3 separate regions of the Homo sapiens genome follow, and regions 1 and 2 are each linked to region 3. The links come from fine-mapping of genetic effects on gene expression. A gene starts in region 3. Each other region holds a variant in brackets. All regions are shown on one strand. Distances are from middle to middle.

What was found.
Region 1: its variant is fine-mapped to the expression of HIBCH in tibial artery (GTEx, PIP above 0.99).
Region 2: its variant is fine-mapped to the expression of HIBCH in whole blood (TOPMed, PIP 0.94).

What each region holds. Positions count from the first base shown.
Region 1 is chr2:190,187,153-190,195,329 of GRCh38, forward strand. The region is part of intron 1 of AKAP19 (A-kinase anchoring protein 19); the gene reads left to right. It also overlaps a transcript of HIBCH not described here. Among named protein-coding and RNA genes, the nearest start is that of AKAP19, 10 kb to the left of the region's middle. The variant G/A (reference allele first, on the strand shown) is at 3,264.
Region 2 is chr2:190,255,380-190,263,574 of GRCh38, forward strand. It overlaps HIBCH (3-hydroxyisobutyryl-CoA hydrolase), which reads right to left. Exons shown (of 14, transcript NM_014362.4): 7 at 5,777-5,855. Among named protein-coding and RNA genes, the nearest start is that of HIBCH, 60 kb to the right of the region's middle. The variant C/T (reference allele first, on the strand shown) is at 5,063.
Region 3 is chr2:190,314,877-190,323,071 of GRCh38, forward strand. HIBCH (3-hydroxyisobutyryl-CoA hydrolase) reads right to left here and starts at 4,950. Exons shown (of 14, transcript NM_014362.4): 1 at 4,840-4,950. The coding sequence starts at 4,874.

The DNA.
Region 1 (8,177 bases), 130 kb before region 3:
ATTTTATATATATATGCATAAAACTTTTTCAAAGACCACAACATGGTTTTTTTATATATTTACATTAATTCAGGGTGAGACCAATTTTAAGCAATAACTTGAGATATAAGGCATCTTAGAAACCTGTGTAAAGGCTTAAGAATATGACATAAAATGGGACAATGGTAAAATAAACCATCCCTGTTAATCCAGTGTTTAAGATGGACTTCTGGGGAGTTAGCAGCCTATTCGTTTACACAGCAGATTTTAGAAGTTACTTTTTTTTTTTTTTTTTGCTGGTTTTGTGTTTGGGTCCAACTCATGTCCAAATTATGGCCTTTTTGTGATACCTTCCACTGGCATATTCCCAAGGAATTTACTCCTTTTGATGACACTGCACCCAGAATGGAGGAACACAGCTACAAAATGAACTATAAAGAAGGGCTAGGCAGGCATGGTGGCTCACACCTATCATCCCAGCACTTTGAGAGGCCAAGGCAGAAGGATCACTTGACGCCAGGAGTTCACAACCAGCCTGGGCAATATGGCTGTCTCTACAAACAATATAAAAAATAACGTGGGCATGGTGGCACGTGCCTATAGTCGCAGGTACTCAGGAGGCTGAAGCCAGAGAATAGTTTGAACCCAGGAGTTCGAGGCTGCTGTGAGCCACAACTGGCCACTGTACTCCAGCCCAGGCGATGGACTGAGACCCTGGCTCTAGGAGAAAAAAGGTGGGTAGCTGCAGTAAATCACATTTTTTCTTTGACGGACCCAACAGAAGGCCCAGTTGTTGCTAGATCTCTTCCTGAGGATAGTGTCAGGGCTCATTCTATATTTTTAGAGCTTTGAGCCTTCAAATAACATTGAAACATGTAAAGGGGCTTTCTTTTCCTCATGTATGACTGTCATGTGTATATATGTGTCTGTGCATTGTGATTTGAGGGGTAGGAGACAGAGGGAGAGGGAGTGGTGGGTGGAAGGGCACTGTTAGATTTTAATACTTATAGCCTGAATAAATTATATTCTCTTTCTCCTTTTGATTTTGTTAATTTTGGAAGCACTTACATTCTATGGGCGCAGGTTCTAAACACATAGTAGACACTCAATATAGACTGGTTGGATGGTTAAGGGATGCTCTGATAGTTCTTTTGTGTATCTTGAGAACTAAGGTATAAAAGATTGATTTAAATATTTTTGAGAAACTGTGTTTTTTAAACATTTTATATTTCTGTAATTAGCCAGTTAAAATGACAAGAAGGCCAAAACACTTCCTGGTTGATATGCAGCATTTAATGTATCACACCTTCAACTGATGACCATAGTCACTTCCCAACCTGACAAATGAATAACAGACTAAAAATTAATTCAGGACAGCTGATCACACCTGCTATCTTAAGGCTAATCATAGCTGCCTAACCACTGACTTGCATTAATGGCTAACATTGTTGAAACTTTATTTCCTCCTTATGAATCAACTATCTTATTAGGAGTGATTGAAATTATACGAAGTTTGTTCTTCACTGGTGTGCAGGCTTATACTGTAATTGCCTTTTAAGTATTTAAAGTACTGTATTGTAACTGCCTTTTAAGTATTTAAAAGTATTTAAACAGCTGCTATTATGAACAGTAGATGCTTCACATGAACTTTTTTTTCCCTCTTGGCTCTTACTTTAAGGATGATGCTTTTTTATTCATGATAAATCTTGAGGCTTCTGTGGGATGGAAACTATAGCATGAAAATCTGATTAACAAATATGTGGGGGCAGTTTACTAATCCATTCAATTAGGGCAACTGCACCTTCTCAGCATGCCATGAGCAATTCCATTAGATAGCTAGTTACTGGACCAGATGATTACCTAATTACATGAATATATCAGTGTCATTTTTCCCAACACAGGACTTGAAGGCCAGATTTGAGAACTAGTCCTGGGGTAGTAGTACCCAGAGACCTGTTTGGGAGACTGGGAAGGTCTGGGCCATCACGTTCTTGCTGATAGCCCAGAGATCAGGTCAAGGACAGGGGCAATGAGAAGAAAGAAACAGAGACCCTGGGAAGGAGCTATCTTGGTCTTTACCGGCAAGAATTAACTTCAAAGATGGGACAGAGGTTCTATAAGTTCAAGAAAGGGAGAAAGTTAACACTTAAAAACATAGGCTGGATTGGATAAAGTACCGTTGGAGCACTTTTATTCCAAGAAGAAGCTGGAATTCGGAGTGACAGCTCCATTCTTATTTGCCATGTGAACTCTGGGTCAGCAAGTGGAAGAGCCAGACCTATCTGCCTGTTTCATCTATTAGATGGGAAGAGATGATAAACATAACATAAATTAGTAAGCAGATGTGATAAGTAACTGAAGAACAGTTGTTTTCTATCCTTAATAGATACGGCTAAACCAGCTGAAGGTTAACAACATAAATATTTTAATATCTAGGTATTTTTGATGTCCTATACTCTAGAAATATGTGCAAATTAAAGTGTGGTGGGGATGAAGTATTACTAATCTATTTCCTTGGATAAGGTTATATATCCCTCTCTCTACTCTACCCTCCTTAGCTACAAGTTCAGGAACAACACAATAAAGGACAAAAGACTCTCACATCCAATTTCAAATTGGTTTCTCATTTATTGCCATCATTCTAAATCAAAGCACTCTACCTGTTCCCAAAGGAAGTGACAGATAAAGCCCTTGAACTGGCAACTGGAAGAACTAGAAGTAGGCTTTTGCTCTTCGGTAGGCCCAGAAGATTATGACCACTGAGTTGGGCTGGTTTCAGGCCAATGTAGAAAGGAAGCAGCAGGCCTCACACTGGAGTCCTCCAGCACAGGGAGCTGGTCCGCTCTGGATGCTGCCCATAGGCGGTCTTTTTCAGATAAAATACATCAGTCCCCTGGATTTAGGTGCCCCAGAATGTTCTCAAAAACTGTTCTTATATCTTATTAAAGTAAAAATTACAGTGAAATACAGTAAACAGATGTTAAAGGTACAATCTAACATGTTTTAACATATACCTCATGTAACTAACATACCAATTAAGATATAGAATTTTTTAATAGCCTAGAAAGTTATTTCAGGGCCTCTTCCAAACAGTCCTTACTTCTTCCCACCCAAAGGGAATCACTACTATGATTTCTATTCATAGGGTCACTATTGTCCAATCTTGAAATTCATATAAATATGATCCATCTTTTTTATCTGGCTCAACATGTCTGAGATTCATCCATGTGGTTTGACATACCAATAGTTCATCCTTTTTTAATTGTCAAGTTATATTCCATTTT[G/A]AGGATATCCCTAATTTGTTTATCCATTTGATTTGCCTACTGATGGACATTTGGGTTGTTTCCAGCTTTGACTATTGTGAATAAAGAGGCTATGGATATTGGTATACAGATTTTTAAAATACCTGTGTTTCCATTTGTCTTAGATAAATATCTAGAAATGAAATGGCTGGTTCACAGGGTAAGTGTGTGGTTAACTTTTTAAGAAACAGCCAAGGAATTCTTTAAAATGGTTGTACCATTTTACATTCCTTCCAGCAATATATGCGTTGCATGTCCTCACCAACACTAAGCACTGGGGTTTTTTAAATTTTAGCAATCTTAGTGTGGGTAATTATATTGTGGTTTTAAAAAATACCTTTTTAAAATTTTTAACATACAGTAAAGCTGACTTCATTTTGGTGAACAAGTCTATGAATTTTAACGCATGTTTAGATTTGTTACAGCCACCACCACAATCGGGATAAAGAATAGTTACATCACTCCAAAAAAGGTCCCTCCTGCTGCCCTTTTGGTCACAGTCTACCCCCAACCTCCTGTCAACCACTAATCTATCATCTGTCCCTATAGTTTTGCCTTTTTCCAGAATGTCATATAAATAAGTAACCTTTTGAGACTAGCTTGTTCAATCAGCATGCCTTTGAGTCATCCATATTGGTGTACATTAACATCTTTGTTGTCAACTTTTGGCAATTATAAAGCTGTGACAGACATTTGCATACAATTTTTTTTCTTTATTTTTTGAGATGGAGTCTCACTCTGTCACCCAGGCTGGAGTGCAGTTGCGTGATCTCAGCTCACTGCAACCTCTGTTCTGCCTCCTGGATTCAGGTGATTCTCATGCCTCAGCCTCCCAAGCAGCTGGGACTACAGGTGTGCACCACTATGCCCTGCTAACTTTCTTGTATTTTCAGTAGAGACAGAGTTTCACCATGTTGGCCAGGCTGGTCTCAAACTCCTGACCTCAGGTGATCTACCCACCAAGGCCTCCCAAAATACTGGGATTACAGGCATGCGCCACCGTCCCCAGCCAGCATACAATTTTTTTATGTGAACACAAATTTTCATGTATCTAGGGTAAATTTCTAGGAGTGGGATTGCTGGGTCTTCTATGTGGTTATTCCAACTTTGTGAGAAACTGCCAAACTTTTCCAGAGGCCATGTCATTTTGCATTCCCACCAGCAATGTATGAGAGTGCAGTTGCTCTGTATATGCACCAGCACTTGGTATTATTTTTACCCATTCTAACAGCTACATAGTGGTTTCTTATCATGGCTGTAATTTGCATTTCCCTAATGGCTAATGATATTGAGCATCTTTCATGTACTTATATTTGCTATCTATAGGTGGTACCAAGTGAACTGCCTAAATCTTTCAAATCTCGTTTTCTAAACTGGGTTGTTGTCTTGCTATTGAGTTTTGATACTTATATATTCTGGATTCAAGTCATTTATTGGCTAGATGATGACTTGCAAATATTTTTTATATTTGCTGTTTTTTTTTCAATCTTTTAACTGTGTTTTTTTTTCCAGAGCAAATCTTTTTCATTTTGATTCAGTCTAGTTTACCAGTTTTTTTCTTTCATGGTTCATGCTTTTGGTATCACATCTAAGAACTCTTTTCCTAACCCAAGATCGCAAATGTTTTGTCTTCTTGTTTTATAGTTTTACATTTTACATTTAAAACTATGATCCCTTTTGAGTTAATTTTTCTATAAAGTATAAGGTATAAGTAGATTTTGGTGGGGGGAGAGTATGTGAATGTCCAATTGTTCCAATCCCATTTGTTGAAAAGATTATCCTTTTTGCATTCATTGTTTTTGGACATGTCAAGTATCAGTTTACCATATTTTTATGGGTGTATCTCTGGACTTGTTTCTGTTTCATAGGTTTGTGGCTAGCCTTTTGTCAATATAGCACTAATTACTGTAGCTTTATAGTCATTCTTAACATTAGATAATAGGAGTACTCCAAATTATTGTTCTTTCTCAAAATTGTTTTGGCCATTCTAGTTTGTGTTTCCATGTATAATTCAGAATCTGTGTGTGTGTGTGTGTGTGTGTGTGTGTGTGTGTGTGTATCTATATATCTATATATATAAAACAAATCCTGCTGGGATTTTGACTGGACTTTTAGAATCCATTTGTCAATGTCTACAGAAAAGCCTGCTGGAATTTTGCCGAATATACATGTTAATTTGGGGAGGACTAAGAATATTGTCTTTCAGATCATGAACAGCATTTGTCTGTTTGTTTAGGTTCTTTACTTTTTCTCAGTAACATTTTGTATTTTTCACGTACAACGTACACAATACAAAATGCAGTTTTCCTTCATATGCTTTGTTAAATTTATCCCTAAGTGTTCATGTTTTTGATGCTATTGCAAATGGCATTAATTTCATCTTCTGCTAAGTTTGTAGAAATTACTTTTTATATGTCACTTTTATATGTTAAGACCTTGCTACAATTATTCCAGTAAATTTTTTTTGGGGGGAGGCCATATAATCTTTAAAATTTTCTCTATACAATTTTGTCATCTGCAAATAATGGCAGTTTTCTCCTTCTCTCAATCTTTATGCTTTGTATGTCTTCCCTTCCTCATACTCAGTGGGACTTCCGGTAAAATATCAAACAGAAATCATGAGAATGACTATTGCTGCCTTGCTCCTGTCATAGGGAAAAAGTGTTGTCTTTCACCACTAACATTACTTTTGAGGAAGGCCTTCCTATTAATACTTTGCTGGGATTTTAAAAATAAAAAATGGTATTTTATCAAAATTTTTTTTCTGTTTCTACTGAGGTGATCATCTGATTTTTTTTATGTTAATATAGTGAATTATATCTATTGTCTTTGGAATATCCTTGAATTTCTGGTATAAATCCACTCAGTCATCATGTTTTATCCATTTTACACGTTAGATTCAATTTGCCAACTTCTGGGTCTATGTTCATGAGGGATATTGGCCTGTGGAGTTTTGTCTTCTTGGTAATACTGGCCTCATATAGAATAATTCGGGAAATCTTTCTTTCCTCTTTCTCTCTTTTCTGAAGAGTTTAGATAAGACTGGTATTACTTCCTCGTAATGGCCTTGGTAAGAGTTCTCTAGTGTAGCCATTAGGGCCTGGAGGTTTCTTTTTGGAAAGATTTACAATTTCTTTAATTGATGTAGGGCTATCATTTTTTTCTTGTGCCAATTTTGGTAATTTGATATTGGCATAAAATTGTTTATATTATTCCTGTTTGCCTTTTAAACGTATATAGATGTCATAATGCCCATTACACATCTTAATATGTGACTTTTCTTGATCAGTCTGTATAGAGATGTATCTATTAGATCTTTTTAAAGAACCAGCATTCATTCTGTTGTCTCTATCGTATGCTTCACTGATTTCTGTTCTTACCTACTTCTGTCTACTTATTTTGGGTTTAATTTGCTTTTCTTTTTTTAGCTTAAGGTGAAAGCTTATATCACTGATTTAAACTTTTCTTCTTTTCTATTATAAGCATTTAAGTATATAAATTTCCTTCTAAGCTCTAAAACTAATGCATTTCAAAATTTTGATGTTTTGGCTTTTGTTTAGTTGAAACTATATTTTAATTTCTCCTGTGATTTTCTTCTTTGTCCCATGGGTTATTTAGAAATATGTTTAGTTTCCAAATATATGAGGCTTTTCTAGATATTTTACTCTCTGGGGTGGTTAGAAATTGTACTGTGTAATGTTTTAAGCCTTTGAAATCTGCTGAGACTACCAATAGTCTATCTTGGTGAATGTTCCATATGCACTTGATAAGAATATGTAATAGTTGTTGGGTGTAGTGTTCTGTGAATATCAACTCAAGTTGGAGCATAATGTTGTTCAGAACACGTATTTTTTCTTTGACTATTCTAGTAATGTTTTAAGTCTCCAGCTATGCTTGTGGGTTTGTCAGTTTTAAGTTGTGTATCTTTTATAGATAGCATATAGTGGGTGTATTTTTTAAAAAAATAATAGACTGTTTTTCAGAGCAGTTTTAAGTTAACAGAAAAATGGAGCAGGAAGTAGTGTTCCCACGTATCCTGTGTATACACACACACACACACACACACACACACACACACACACACACGCAGCATCTCCCACTAGACACATCGCAATCACCTGAAATCCACGTTATTTTAGGGTTCATTCCTGGTGTTGTACAACCTATGGTTTTTGACAAATGTATGACAGAAATCCATTATTAGTATCATATAGAATAGTTTCATTGCCTTAAAAATTGTCTGTTCCACCTATTCATCTCAGCCTCTTCCATAACCCTTGGCAACCACTGGTCTTTTTACTGTCTCCAGAGTCTTGCCATTTCTAGAATGTCATATAGTTGTAATCATACAGCATGTACCCCTTTCAGATTGGCTTAACTTAGTAATAAGTATTTGAGGTTCCTCCTTTTCTTCCCATGGCTGGATTATTATTTTTTGAGGTGGGGTCTTGCTCAGTCACCCAGGCTGGAGTGCAGTGGTGCAATCAATCTTAACTTACCACAACCTTCAATTCCAACTCCTGGGCCCAAGTGACCTCGGCTTCCTGAGTAGTTAAAACTGTAGGTGTGCACCACCATGCCTGGCTAATTTTTTTCATATTTAATTTTTTTGTAGAGACGGGGTCTTGCTATGTTGCCTAGGCTGGTCTTGAACTCCTGGGCTCAAATGATACTCGCCTCAGCCTCCCAAAGTGCTGGGATTGTAGGCGTGACTATGCCCAGCCTAACTCATTTATTTTTAATGCTGAATATGTTCCATTGTTTAGATGTGCCACAGTTTACCCATTCACCAAGAAGGACATCTTGCTTGCTTCTAAGTTTTCAAAGTTATGAATAAAGCTGCTACAGACATCCATATGCAGATTTTTGCATGGATTTAAGCGTTCAACTTATTGG
Region 2 (8,195 bases), 59 kb before region 3:
TGACTCTTGCTATTCACATCTCAGCTTAAAGGACAACTCCTCTGAGAGCATCTTTAATCATCCAATTTAAAGTAGCCATCTGGGAGACTTATACTTTGGACAAGATAGAGTAACAGGAACCAGACTTATCCCCCTACCTGAAACAACTATAAAAACAGACACAATATATGGATCAATAGTGTTTTCAACACACTGAACATCAAGCAATAAAGAAAAGTGGTCTCTGAATATCAGAAAACAAGCAAGGTAAATTCTACAACAGCTCCAACTTCATGCCTTGAGTGAATTCCCAGGCCCAGCACAGTGCCTCATTTGAGAAGATGAAGCTGAGTCTAGGGAAACCAAGACAGCTAGAATTCCCACAACAGAGTACCAGAGCGGAGAGAGCTGCAGAGAGAAAGCTCTGGAGATCTGCAGGGTGTCTCTTTTAAGTACTTAGCTTAGGAATGGAGAGAGAGAGAGAGAGAGAGTGTGTGTGTGTGTCAAGAAACTACATGATTAGTCAGTTTTCACACTACCCGAGACTGAGTAATTTATAAAGGAAAGAGGTTTAATTGACTCATAGTTCCAAATGGCTAAGGAGGCCTCAGGAAACTTACGATCATGGCAGAAGGCAAAGCAAGCTTGGACCTTCTCACATGGTAGTAGGAGAAAAAAGAGTGAGGAGCAAAGGGGGAAGAGCCCCTTATAAAACCATCAGCTCTTGTAAGAACTCACTATCATGAGAACAGCAAGGGAGACACTGCGTCCATGATCCAATCAGCTCCTACCAGATCTCTCCCTGGACACATGGGGATTACGGGGATTACAATTCAAGATGAGATTTGGGTGAGGACACAACGCCTAACCATATCACTACATGAGACTAAGGAAAGAATCACAGAAAATGATTATAGAGAACAGTACTGGGAACCCACACAGGACTAAAAACAGCATGTTCCCCACCATCTGGACTAGAAAAACTCATGATTGATGTCATGGGGCACTGTGCAGAACACAAAGCAAGATCTTGCCCCAGTAGTGGGAAATAATTAGCCCTAGTTGGACCACTGCTCCAATTCTGCAAAAAAAAAAAAAAATAATAATAATAAATCTTACAACACTTGAAAATATTAAGATGTTTCCCAGGAATTTAAATTCATCTCAGAAGAAATCTCAAAAATACTTAAAAGAATACAAAAATATCCAGCACCCGACAAAGTAAAGTTTACAATATGTACAATTCAATAAAAAATTACCAGCTATCTAAAGATGCAGGAAAATACTAACCATTAAAAGGGGATTTAAAAAAATAAGAACCGACATAAATGTAAGAACCAGCAGACAAAAACATTAACACAGTTATCACAAACATAACCTATATATTCAAGAAGTTAGAGACACAGAAAATTTTTCTTTTCAGAAAAAGAACCAAATCATACTTCTAGAGATGAAAACTGAAATGAATGTATAAGCTGAAAAATACCTGGATGAGATTAAGGGCAGATTAGATCTTGTAGAAGAGAAGATTAATGAATTTAAGGACACAGGAACAGAAACTATCTAAAATGAAAGAGAGAAAAAAAATGTTTTTAATGAATGAAGCATAAGTGAGCCTTATAGAAGTATGACCAGAATTCCTGAAAACGGAATGGGTGGAAAAAAAGTATTTGTAGAAATAATGGCAGAAAATTTTCCAAATTTGACAGAAGTTATAAACCTAAGTAGCTCAATAACCACAAGCATTAGAAATATGAAGAGCACCAAAGCACATCATAATCAAATAGCTTGAAACATGTGATCAAGAGAAAATCTTAAGAGCAGCCAAAGAAAATAAAAAGACACAGGAACAAAAATAAGGAAGAGAGAAGACTTTCTGTAGGAAATTAAATGAGATGACAGTGTAGTAACATCTTTAAATTACTGAAATTAAAAACCAGAGTAGAATCGAATTCCATACCCACATCTCATACAAGTGAACTCAGGTTTCACCTGAGGAAATGAAAGAAGAGCAAACAAAATCTAAAATAAGCAGAAGAAAGGAGGAATGAATACTGGAGCAGAAATCAGCAAAATAAAAAATAAATGAAAACAAAAATCTGTTTAAGATCAATAAAATTAATAAACCTCTAACTAGATTGATCAGGAAAAAAAAAGAGAAGACACAATGACCAATATCAAGAATAAGAGAGCCAGAAATCACTAAGGAGTCTACAGATATTAAAAAGATAATAGGGGAATATTATTGTCTTAGTCCATTTTGTGTTGCTATGACAGAATACCACAGACCGGGGTAATTTAGAAAAAAAATTATTTCTCACAGTTCTGGAGGCTGGGAAGCCCAATATCATGGTGCCAACATCACACGAGGGCCTTCTTGGTGCATCATCCCACGGCAAAAGGCAAGGGTGAGACAGGACAAGAGAGCAGAAGGAAAGGGGGCTGAAGTCATCCCTGTATCGGGAACTAACCTGCAAAAACTGGAAGAGCCCCCATGAACCACTCACCTCTTAGTGGTACCAACTCTCAACACTGCTGAGTTGGGAATTAAGTTTCCAACACGTGAACTTCAGGCGACACATACAAAAAAGCAATTATGAACAACTTTATGCTAACAAATTGACAAATTTCTTGAAAGGCCCTGATATGGTTTGGCTCTGTGTCCCCATTCAAATCTCATGTTGAATTGTAATCCCCAGTGTCGAATGAGGGGCCTGGTGGAAGGTGATTGGGTCATGGGGGCAGATTTCCCCCTTGCTGTTCTCATAATAATGAGTGAGTTCTCATGATATCTGGTTGTTTTAAAGTGTGCAGTACTTCTCCCTTCACTCTCCTGCCAGCCACGTGAAGATGCACTTGCTTCCCCTTCATCTTTGGCCACGACTGTAAATTTCTGGAGACCTCCCCAATCATGCTTCCTGTACAGCCTGTGGAACTGTGAGCCAATTAAACCTCTTTTCTTCATAAATTACCCAGTCTCAGGTAGTTCTTTATAGCAATGTGAGAATGGACTAATACAGCAAACCGGTACCAGAGAAGTAGGGCATTGCTATAAAGATACCTGGAAATGTAGAAGTGACTTGGGAACTAGGCAACGAGCAGAGATTGGAATAGGTTGCCTCTTTACTCTGCTAATTGTTTTCTTTGCTGTGATTCTAGAAGCGTTTTACATAATGTAATTCTATTTGTCTATGCACAGACCTTGGGAGCCACCCCTTGCATCAGTGTAGCCTGGATGTTGGATAGATTCAACAACATGTGTATATACGACAACAATCGTATATTTTTGTTTTTGTTGCCTGAGCTTTTGGCGTCAAAGCCAAAAAATTATTGACCAGATTAATGTCACGTCATTTTCCCATATGTTTTCTTCTAGTGGTTTTGCAGTTTCAGGTTGTATGACTACATCTTTAATCCATTTGAGGTTTTTTTCTAAAATATAATATGAGGTATGGGTCTAATTTCATTTTTCTGCATATGGATATCCAGTTTTTCTGACATCATTTATTGAAGAGACTGTCCTTTCACCATTATGTATTCTTGGCATCTTTCTTGAAAATCACTTAACTGCAAATATATGGATTTGTCTCTGGGCTTGCTATTCTTTTCCAGTGGTCTACGTATTCATTTTTATTCCAGTACTATGCTGTTTTGATTACTAAAACTTTGCAATAGTGTTTGAAGTCAATACAAAGCCTCTAGCTTTGTTCTTTTTGCTTAAGATTATCTTGGCTATTTGCAGTCTTCTTTGGTTCCATATGAATTTTAGAATTGTTTTTTCTATTTTTTTGAAAACTGACATTGGGATTTTGATAGGGATTACACTGAATCTGTAGATCACTTTGGGTAGTAAGAACATTTTAAAAATATTCTTCCAATCCATGAACATGTAATATCTTTTTATTTATTTGTGTCTTCTTCAATTTTTTTCATCAAAGTTTTGTAGTTTTCAGTATACAGATGTGTGTGTGTGTGTGTGTGTGTGTGTGTGTGTGTGTGTGTGTGTGTGTCTGTCTGACTGACATGGTCTGGCTCTATTGCCCAGGCTACAGTGCAGTGGCATGATCTCAGCTCACTGCAGCCTCTACTTTCAGGGCTCAAGCCATCCTTTTATCTCCACCTCCTGAGCAGCTGGAACCACAGGCACACGCCACCATGTCCAGCTATCTTTTGTTATTTTTGTAGGGATGTCGTTTCGCCATACAGATTTTACCTACTTGGTTAAATTTATTTCTAAGTATTTTATTCTTTTTGATGCTTTTGTAAATGAAATTGTTTTCTTATTTTTCAAATAGTTTGTTGTTAGTGTATAGAAATGCTGATTTTTATGTGTTGATTTTATATCCTACAGCTTTACTGTATTTATTAGTTCAAACAGTTTTTTACTGGAGCTGTTGGAGTTTTCCATATATATATAAGAGCATGTCATCAGCAGTGACAGTTTCACCTCTGCTTTTCCTGTTTGGATGCCTTTTATTTCTTTCTCTTGCCTAATTGCTCTGGCAAGGACTTTCAATACAGCATTGAACAGAAATGATGAGAGCAGGCATCATTGTCTTGTTCCTTATCTTAAATGAAAAATATATACCTTAACATCAAACTTAATTGGTAGAAGACTAAATGCTTTCCCCTAAAATCAGGAACAAGGAAAAAATGTCCACTCTCACCACTTCTATTCAACATTGTATTGGAAGTTCTATTCTACGCAATAGGGCAAGAGAAAGAAATAAAAGGTATCCAGATTAGAAAAAGGAAAGGAAAAAGTAAAACTGCTCTTACTTGTGAATGACATAATTGTCTCTTTAGGAATTCCAGTAAAGTAGAATCGAATTCAAATCTAAAGCAACTAAAACTAATAAGTGAGTTTAGCAAGTCTGCATGATAAAGGTAAATACAAAAATCAACTGTATTTCTTTAGACTGGTAACTAACAATTCAAAAATATCATTAATATGAAATACTTATGGATAAATATGACAAAAGATAAGACCTATAAACTGAAAACTAAAAATCCATGCTGAGAGAAATTAAAGACCACTTACATAAATGAAGAATTATATCTTGCCCACAGGTCTGAAAAGACT[C/T]GATAGTGTTAAGATGTCAATTCTCTCTAAATTCATCTGCAGGCTTTTTTGTTGAAATCGACAAGTAACTCTAAAATACATATGGAAAGATAAAGAACCTATATAGCCAAAGCAACTTGGTAAGATACAAAGAACAAAGGTGGAACATTGTCACTACCTGATTTTAAGACTTAACTATAAAGCAACACTAACCAAGACAACATGGTGTTGGCACCATGATTGACATCTATAGACAACTATAACAAAGCTACACAGGCAATTCAGTAGCAAAACAATACCCTTTCAACAGTTGGTACTGGAATGATTGTATTTCCATATACAAAATAAACTTTGACTTATATAGGTGATCCACACCCCTCACCATATACAAAAATTAACTCAGAAGTGTCATATGATAGTTTTGATCACAACTCAAAACTGCACAGATCTAAAGGCAAAAATATATTCCCTTAATGATATTTTATCTATAGTGTTAATGTTTTATTTATAGTGTGTTAATGTCTCCTTTAATGTTCTCAGTTTTGTGTTTTCAGATATAATCATTGAGCTAATATAGACTTCAAAGTATCTTCCTATTTAATTTCTTTTTTAAAATCCTTTCATTGTTGCATCTCACACAAGAGTCCATCAATTCCTTCAACAACAGTAAACTCTGAAACATATCAAAAGAAGATGATGCTAAAAGTAATTATAAAAAAAATTCTGGTTGTTTACCTATTGCAGTTTCTGGCATAGCAAAAAGACACTTTTCTGTAGCCACTCGAAATTGCCCATGGACTGAGAGACCAACTCCCTAGAGAAAAAAGGCAAAAAAAGAGGCGGGGGGGAATTAAACATATTGTTAAAAAACAAGCAAATTCACACACTTACAAAATTACAAAGCAAGTAAATTATCTTTATACTCCACAGGAACTTGCTTCAGGGAATAGGTTGTCCCCACCTCTTTCAATTAACTTTGAATTCCACAAACAGCACATGACTATATTCCCCTTTATTAAACATTTACACATAAAGTCTGATCACACCCCCATTCTTGTCTGGTCATTCTCTTCCTCCACAGAGACACATAGCTATTATCCATTTGGTAAGTAACCTACGATTTTTTTCCCTATGTATTTCTTATATATGAACAAATGTGTCTATTTATCTGATATATATTTTATATATAAGAATATATACAACTATACATATATAAAATTCACACTCTATTCCATGGCCTGCAAGGCTCTATATCACCTGGCCTAGCTGACCTCTTTGACTTTATCTCCCATCACTCTTCCCGCACTCGTTCCACTAGCCATGGGGGCTTCATGCCATTCCTCCAAAATTTTAAGCTTTTACAATTTCAATTAATCATAAAACTTCTAAGGTAAGAAGAAAAACTACTAGATAAGGCCACTGCCTGCTCAATCACTGCTTTTTCTCTAAGGGAATCTGCTCTGCCCAGAGACTCTCTTTTCCTTTCCCCAGGAGGGGCTGAACTAGGGATTGGCAATGGACCCAAGGGCAGCCAATGGAGACTAACCAGAATTCAGAGGCCTGGGGAGCAAAGAGGCAGGGGTGAATTAGATAAGGTTCTTCTTACTCTTAGGTACTTAAAACTAAAACACAGTGCACAGTTGTCAGTCGATGACAGGCAGTGAAGCTTAAAGGTCATCTGACATTTGAGCTAAAGATGACAATGACAGCCAAGTAAAAGCTGGTTTTATATGCGGTAGAGACAAAAAAAAAAAAAAGAAAAGAAAAGAAAAGAAAAAAACCCTGAGAATGCTGCAGTCTGTACAAGACAGAAAACAAAACAAACACATAAAAAGAAGCAGAGATAGAAAAATAAACACACAACTTAAATTTGCCTCAAGCCCACACCTGCAGTCCAATTTTCAGGAACATAAGCAATGCCTAAGGTCCCTGAACTTGTCTAATAACTGCCCCATTCTCTTTTGTGGATCTTTTTGAGTGAGTCTCTGTTCTTTCCAATTAAAATGTCTCTTCACCACATTTTCAGTTAGAACTAGACCTAGATCCTGCCATCAGCATCACACAACGTAAGTCTTTGGGCCCCCAGTATATATTCACTGCAATACTGTTCTGTGCTTTTCCTCCCAACACAACCTCCTAACACTGCTGTCCCTGACTAGTCATTCCCATCACATCTTCTGGAATCTTCATTCCTTTACAAAGGAACAACCTAACAGACCAAATTCTCTACAGAGGGCCCTCTCCACCTCCTGAACTCTATGGAAAAAGAAACTTAAAAACCCCATATTACTTCACATAGAAGCTACAGATCCATGCGGGGTAACTGATTCATTGATTCCATTTGTTATCTTATATTACATAGAGTATGTTTTATTTTAGCATTGGCTGATAATAGTGAATTAAAGAAAAGACATCAAGATTTGAGCAAAAAGTTATTAATGAAAAACTATCAGAATAAGAGACCACTGACATAAGAATCATTAAGAGCCAATTTTAAAGCCTTTCAATAAAGATGAAGGTTCAGAATAGTCAAGCCACTTCACTTGAAGATACTAGGAATACGCTGAACCATTTCGAATGGGGTATAAAACCCTAATGGCAGATTCGTAACTAATTTTTCTATCTTACATCAAAGAATCTATTATAGGTTACTTGTAAGCAGCCCTCTTAACTTCTGAAATTTGATTTTACATTTTATTTAACCATTAATCTTAGCTGATACTTCTTTGCTAGACTAAAAAGGCTCCAAAGTCTTCAAGTTTTATTGTATTAGCTAATTTTATACAGATTCATTCTCCAAATATAATACTTTATTCCAATTCCAACTCTCCTCAAATCTCTCCCCCAAACCTACCAAACCCAGTAGTCAAATCTCATTTTTCACCAAGCTGAACACTAGCTAAATAGCTCAGTAATATTTGACAGTTGCTCATTCCTACTTTATGAAATGCTTTACTGGGCTTTGAGGCACCATACATTCCTGCTTTAAAATCTAACTCATTAGTTACTCTTTCATTTCTCCCTGATATCAAAGTGTTGACCTGCCACAATAATTAGATGTCATCCTTCTACTCCACTTCACTCTACCCCACTGTACTCTGTCCTGTCTACATGCATTCCCTAGGAGATCTCTTCCAGCCCTAGGATTTTAAGC
Region 3 (8,195 bases):
AATTTATGATCTTTCTTTTCTATTGGTTCCAAAACTGCCATCTGGTGGAGAGGAAGAGGGCATGCACCTCTCCGCTCCTTTTTTTTTTTGAGCCTGAGTCTCTCTCTGTCGCCCAGGCTGGAGTGCAGTGGTGCAATCTCGGCTCACTGCAGGCTCTGCCTTCCGGGTTCACGCCATTCTCCTGCCTCAGTCTCCTGAGTAGCTGGGACTACAGGTGCCTGCCACCATGCCCGGCTAATTTTTTGTATTTTTAGTAGAAACGGGGTTTCACCATGTTAGCCAGCATGGTCATGATCTCCTGACTTCTTTCTTGATCCGCCCGCCTCAGCCTCCCAAAGTGCTGAAATTACAGGCATGAGCCACTGTGCCCGGCCTGCTACTTCTAATTTCTTAATTAACTTTATCAGGCTTATTTCCTTCAACTGATGTCAACTTGGCTTTTTAGAACAGTTATTCTCAAAGTATGGTTCTTGGACAAGTACCATCAACATCCCCTGGAAACTGACTAGAAACTGAAATTCTCTGCCCCACCCCAGACCTACTGAACAAGAAACTGTGGGGCCCAGAAATCTGTGTTTAACAAACCCTCCAGGTGGTTATGATGCGTGAAGTTTAAATAAACAACTGTCTTAGATGAGAACTTTATCACTCAGGAACTTTTTGCAATTATCCAATAAAACAAACATGGCCTCACGAAATTAAACAACTACATGAAACTGCTTAAGCAGGAAGAAGACATCACAAAGTAGTGCTTAGTGAAAATTATTATCCCAGAAGTAGGCAAGGTGTGAACAGAGCAGAAAATCAAGTCCAGGAGGCCAATAATTTAGGCATGGGGTGATGAAGAACAGCAGATGTGGAAACAGAAGGGAGTGATATTATTAAGAGTTTTTATAAAGTAAAAACTCAATGGAAAGGAATGTCAAAAATGACTTTAAGATTTCAAGCCAGGACAACCAGGAGAATATAGAAAAGACAGGGAAAGAAGCTAGCTGGTTTGCAGGACGAAATACAAATTCAATTTTTTGAATTTGAATTTGTACTGACATAAGCAGAAATAGTCAACAGAAGAAAGAGACTAGAGGTTGAAAGAAAAGTTAGAACTAAAGGTATATCTTATGCCACATGCATGTACAATCACTGAGACACTGGAATCTCTCAGCTTTCTGTAAGGAATAAATGAGAAGGCTGCAGTTGAAAACTAATTGCCAGAAAGATGCCAACTGTAACTGTGGTATTGGTCAGCAGCATTTTATTTTTGTATTCTATTTATTTATTTATTTTTAGAGACAGGGTCTCACTCTGTCACCCAGGCTGGAGTGCAGTGGTATGATACATGGGCTCAAATGCAGCCTCAATCTCCTGGACTCAAGCCTCCTGAACAGCTAAGACTACAGGCGCACACCACCACACCTGGCTGATTTTTAAATTTTTTGTAGAGAGACAGTCTATGTTGCCCAGGCTGGTCTCAAATTCATGGGCTGTGATCCTCCAGCCTCAGCCACCCAAAGTGCTGGCATTACAGACTTGAGTCACCATGCCCAGCCGAGCAGTTTTAAAACTACTAACATTATCTGGATGGAATGGTAGAGATTAAAAAGAAGAAAAACAGAAAAAAACTACTAACATTTAAAAATCAAGACATTTCACCTAAAACTGCACTTTTTCCAGGTTTTCCAGAAAAATCAGTAATAATGGAAACCCTGGGTCTATATTCTATAAGGGCAACAATGGCTGGGGCTGAGAAGCTGCCTCCTCTCTAGAGCACTCTCTCCAGTTCACCAGTCCCCCATGCTGCCATCTAGCCAGCATCTTTCAATGCTTCCTTCTCAGCCTCTGCATTCAGGCTCATGATTCCTAACACAGAAAACAACCTAAAAGAGCAACAAAGATTGAGCCTTTGATCAACTAAGAAACAACTAACTAGAAGTAAAAGAGAAGACAGGCAAAGAGCAAGAACCAAAACAATACAGTTCAGCAGAGGATGGAGGAGATGGAAAAGGCAATGAGGCCTATTAACAACCTAAAAGTACCCTCTTCCTGTTATTTCTATTTTTAGAGACTAGGTTTTTCCATGTTGCCCAGGCTAGAGGGCAGTGGCACAATCATAGTTCACTGTAAACTTGAACTCTGTGGCTCAAGTGATCCTCCCACCTCAGCCTCCCAAGCTGGAAGGATAGGCGTATGCCACCATACCCAGCTAGTTTTTTTATTTCTTATTTTTTGTAGAAACGGGGTCTTGCTATGTTGCCCAGGATTGTCTTGAACTCCCATGTTGGCCTCTCAAAGTGCTAGGATTACAGGCATGAACCACCACACCCAGCGAAGAGCAACCTCTCTGATGAGGCTTCCTGACTCCCTCTCCCTATCTAAATCTGGCTCTCATAACTGTACTTGTCCCTTAAGACACTTACCAGAATTGGTAATCAAAAATTACTTTTGTCTAATTATGTGTTTCCTATCTGCTCTCCTTTCAGACTCCAAGGGCCCTACATAAGGAACAGTAGGAAAACCAAGTAGTCCAGAGTGGCTACAGGATAATAGAAATGCCTAGAACTGTGCTTCCCAGCAAGTAGAACAGAACAGTAGGTAATTGTTCATCCATGAATATACTGGGGCCAAATCTGTGAAATCCAGACTGGTAAAACTGTATTTAATTGCATAAGCAGAAGGGCACCTCTGTGAGATTCTGAGAAGAATGGCAGGCACTGAAGTAAAACCTTAGCGAGATTAACCTGGCAATCTTGTACAGAAACAATTCACACTGGGAAGAGGAAAAAGTGATTAACTTTGAGACTACTGTTGAAACCTGAATCCACAGGAAGAGGTTAAGGTTTGGGAGTGTGGGAGAACTTAGGTAAGTTTGAGAATCTAGAAGAATGATAGTGCCAAGAGAGACAAAGAGTAAGGGTTATACTTACGTGCAAATTTATTTTTCTTTTCCTTTTTTCCTTTTTTTTTTTTTGAGACAGAGTCTCACCCTGTCGCCCAGGCTGGAGTGCAGTGGCATGATCTCGGCTCACTGCAACCTCCCCCTCCCAGGTTCCAGCAATTATCCTGCCTCAGCCTCCCAAGCAGCTGGGATTACAGGGCCCTGCCACCACACCCAGCTAATTTTTTTGTATTTTTAGTAGAGACGGGGTTTCACTATGTTGGCCAGCCTGGTCTTGAACTCCTGACCTCAGATGATATGCCCGCCTCGGCCTCCCAAAGTGCTGGGATTACAGGTGTGAGCCCCCGCGCCTAGCCCTTAAGTGCAAATTTATATATGAGGTGCAACTGAGGCATTCAGAGGGTTGTGACCAGCATTAGAGCTCAGGGCAAGTCAGGTTAGACAAAAATTTGAGTTACCCTAAGACAGATGATTTGGGAACCAAAAAAAAAAAAAAGTCCAAGAGCTAAACTGGCACTGGGGTAAGGAGAGGCGGTGGAGAGTGGCATTAGAAAAGTAGGCCAGTACCGAAGAAGCCAAGGGAGGCCAGAGTTCAAGTGGGGCTGCCCAACACTGTCAACCATGGCCCAAGGCCTTTTTTCCTCTCAGAAACACTTTCCGTGGCACCCTATTCCCTTATACAGTTGTGGGTTAGGGTATTGTGGACTGGACCATCTTGGCCTCTGCTTTCTAGGATAATACCCACTTCAGGGCTGAGTCTGGAAAAGGCATCTCAGATCAAAGCCCCCAAAATGGTCCTGGCCTCACCTACAGAGTACTGCATCTTGGAACGTGGGGTGGAAGAAAGCCAAGCTGAATTGTGGAAATGACAGATCCTTTCCTAAGTCAGCTAACTTTAACAAACATGTCTTTCCAGTTTGTTTCTCTATTTGCTATTTGCTGACAACACTGAAAAAGCGGCAGTAACGATTACGTGTACTGATTTTCTTAGCATTTACTAAATCTCTCCATGAGCTGGTGCAAGGACAACTAATTTTAAGGTATTAAAAAAACAAACAGAAAAGCAACTCTTAAATGTATAACAAAAATTTACTGAGAATTAGGTCTGTGGATACAGTGTTAGACATCTAGACACTTTCCCCTGAAACTATTCTTCTTAAGTCAAGGAAACACCTCCATCCCTTTTCAGGAAACCCAGAAGGCAAACTCTAAGGCTTAAAGAATCCAGTAATTTAAGTCGTCCTTATTTTAAAGAAATAAGGACGGTTCTCCCTTCAAGTGGGCGCAGCTGCTACCTGGTATGACAGTACAGGGCCAGGCAGTGGGCTGTTTAAGGCGCATGCAGCCTAAAGATGATGGCTACCAGATTTCCTAGGCTGAGCTCAAAGCGCAGTGAGGGGTACTTTCAAAAAGTTAAACAATGTTTGCAAACATGCTCCCCCATGCCACGTTAAATGTCCCTCAACACTAGCCTGAAAGTTCCAAATGCCTATACTGACGCTGCAGCCATGCAAGAAAGCTGAATAAAATCACACCACGGGCAGAGAGAGGTGCAGCAACTGGCAAAGCACCTGTGTGTGCTGGCTGCACAAAACATGCCGCACAGTTCCGCTAAGCTAAATCTGTCCGTGTCCCCAGACTGCACCCAACTTTTAAGAAAGGAAAGAAACTGAGGCCAAAAGAATTAAAGTCGTGTGGGGACAAGCCTGAATTAAGAGCCAGAGTGGCAGAAAACCAGAGTGCTGCTGCAAAGAAGATGCTAGAGGGAGAAAGGAAAGACAGGGACGGGGGCTGGGGCTTGGGGAGGGCCAAGGTTGGGGTCTCACAGCGGCGCCTCTGAGCGCGACTCGAAACTTCGAGGCCAGCAGTCTCCACCCCCGGCCCTTTTCCCACTGTGGCGAGTGCCGCTGAAGAGCCTGCCCTTGGCCCCTCGCTCTCTCACTCACCTCGACATGAGCCTCCACATCTCGCGCTGCCCCATCGCCAAACACTCCGAAGCTAAAGCAGCAGAGCGAGAATCTCCCGGACCGTTCCAGCGCCTCGCGTGAGCCCCGCCCACCGCCGTCCTGCGCCGCCGGGCACAGATGACAAGTCCTCCAGGAAGCCAGAGCGACCGTTTCCGCTACGCGACGGGGAAGGGCGGGGCAAGAACGACGCCTGGAGGAAATAGTTGAGGGAGAGGAAGGGATCGGGGACCGGGCCAGGGAGAAGGCGGAGAGCGAGCTGAGGCGGAGCGGGAAGAGGGAGGATAGAACGGACTAGGGCGGATTCGCAGGAAAGGAGATTGCCCTCTAGAGGCTGTCTTAGCCCAAAGCGCAACCTGTTGTCTAGGCTTGGCCTGCCAATTTGACCAGCAGGGACTGATGTGAAAGACTTTTCTGGAATTTTAGTAATTTTTTATTAAAACGTAAACTTAGTATTCTTTGAGACTCAAGTAGAGGAATTACAGTTGATAAAGGACATCGATGTAGTTTATTCATTCCTAACCCAATACAGCCGAATTCCTTTAATATTAGGATTGAGACATTTTCATTTTTCTTGGGAAAAGTTACAGATCTCCCACTCTTCCTCAAAGACACACAAGAGTTGTCTGATTAAGACATAATAGATATGTCTTCCCAACTAAAGTAAAAGTTGCTGTTATCAGTGGAAGCATAATTACATTCAGAAAGTAGCTTACTCTTAAATGAAACCAACATTTAACTCAACTACTAGGATCCACTGTTAAATTGAGGAAAACGTTCCTCCGCTTCCAGATCCACCCAGATGTGTAGCAGAAGACATTTCATCGCCACTATTAAGTATTGACACATTTATCAGAAAGAAGAAATCCGGTGACAAATTTCAGAGAGGACACATGAAAGGAGTTATTCTTAGTACCTTGATATTTAAAGAGATACACTGTTGAGACTTTGATCAAAAATTACGTTGCTAACCTAGGTCAAATGTAATAACCAAATGCCCACTGAGAAGAGGACAGACAACAGACATCACAGAAGGAACTCCTTACCTGCAATTTGGTTTTTAACTGGCTACAGGACATCACCATCTGACATCACCATCATGCCTCATTCACTGCGCACAGAAATGAACCATTCATCTGACCTAGCATGGTTTACTGGAAAAAGCATGGGCTTTCCTGTTAGTCAGACTGAGATTCAAATCTTCCTTGCCGCCCTAGCTTCATGTGTGTGAAACCTGAGTCTCACAAGGCCTCATCGTTAGAAGGGCCCTGTGCTTGTTTTAATGCTGTGCTATTAATAATTTTTGAACAAGGAAACACAAATTTTCATTTTACACTAGGCCTGCAAATTATGTAATCAGTCCTACCCCTAGCACACTAATAGTTTAATGACCTTGAACAAATTATATAGCTTTTCAGAACCTCCATTTTCTCATCTGAAAATGGATGTGCTGATGATTAGAGGTGTTTGTGAAGATCCATTGAAATATAGAAATATGTGCATAAATTACTTAGGACTTCGTAGGTATCAAGACCTGTCAGTTATGCCACACCTTCCACCAAGCTGTCCTTCCTATTCCTAAATTCTCTATTTCTTCTAATGATGCTATCGTCTTCTGGCTTCCCGCTCTAGAAACCTCAGTCCTTTAAAGAAAATTATCTTAACATTCTATTTTGAAGATTTTCAAACATATAGCAAAATTATAAAAATTTAAAGCAAACGCCTATGTGCTCACCACATAGATTCTACCTAGATTTACATTTTATCTTGCTTTATTCCTTATCCCAAATACCTTATTTTTAAATGCATTTCAAAGTTAATTACAAGCATCGTTTTACTTCTCCCAAAATATGGCATGTGTCTTACTACCTAGAGTTAAATATTTGTTTACATATTTTCCCTTTTGAGACAAAATTTACATACAACAAAATGCACAAATCTTAAGTGTACATTCACTGAGTTTGACAAATGTATACACTTGTGTAACCAAAATTCCTTAGATATAAACCATTGTCATCACCCCAAAAAGTTTCCTCTCACGATTTCCCAGACATTCTCTGCCTACCACTGCCTTCCCCACCCCAACCCCCGCCCCAGAAGCAACCACTGTTCTGTCTCGAGAACCACTGTTTGTTTTGAGACAGGGTCTCACTCTATCACCCAGGCTAGAGTACAGTGCCACAGTCATAGCTGACTGCAGCTTCAACCTCCCTGGGCTGAAGCAATCCTCCCACCTCAGCCTCCTGAGTAGATGGGACTACAGGCACATGCCACCACACCCAGCTAATTTTTGTATTTTTTTTTTTTTTGCGAGATAGAGTCTTGCCATGTTACTCAGGCTGGCCTCCAACTCCTGGGCTCAAAAGATCTCCCCGCCTCGATCTCCCAAAGTGCTAGGATTACAGGTGTTAAATACTGCACCCAGTCTGATTTTTCTCTACCATCAATTAGTTTTGCATCTTCTGAAAATTCATATAAAATGGAATCATACAGTGTGCGCTTTTTTTGTATAGCATTTTTCACTTAGCAAAATGTCCATATCGTGTGTATCGGTAGTTTCCTCCATTTTATTACTGAGTAGTATTTCATTATATGAATACCCCATAGTTTACTGATCTGTGCTCCTCCTGATAGATTCCTGGGCTGTTGCCAGTTGGGGCTATTATGAATAAAGCTGCTGTAAACATTCTTGTGTAAATCTATTGTAGACATATGTTTCCTATTCTCTTGGGTAAATATCTATAAATAGAATGTCTTGGTTATAGGGTACATCAATGTTTGGTTTTATGTGAAACAGCCAGACCCTTTTTTCAAGAGTTTGTATCATTTTGGAAAAGAATTCTGGTGGCATACAATCCACAGAATGAGGAATAATGTTTATAAATGATATATTTGATAAAAGGCTATCTAGAATATGTAAAGAACTATCACAATTTAAATAACCAAATTTTAAAATGGATGACAGATTTGAATATACTATACAGCTCTCCAAAAAAGATATATGAATGATCAATACTCATATGAAAAGATGCTCAACATTATTAGCCATCGGGAAATACACATCAAAACCACAATGACTTCACACCCACCATAATTTTTTAAAAAACAAGTGTTAGTGAGGAGAATTTGGAATCCTCAGACACCACTGGTGATGTACAACAGTACAGCTATCTTGGAAAAATGTCTGGCAGTTCCTCAAATGGCTAAACAGAGAGACCATATGACCCAACAATTCCATACCTAGGTATTTACCCAAAATAAATGAAAACATAGTCCTCACAAAAACTTGTACATAATGTTTATGGCAGCATAATTGCCAAGAAGTAGAAATAACTCAA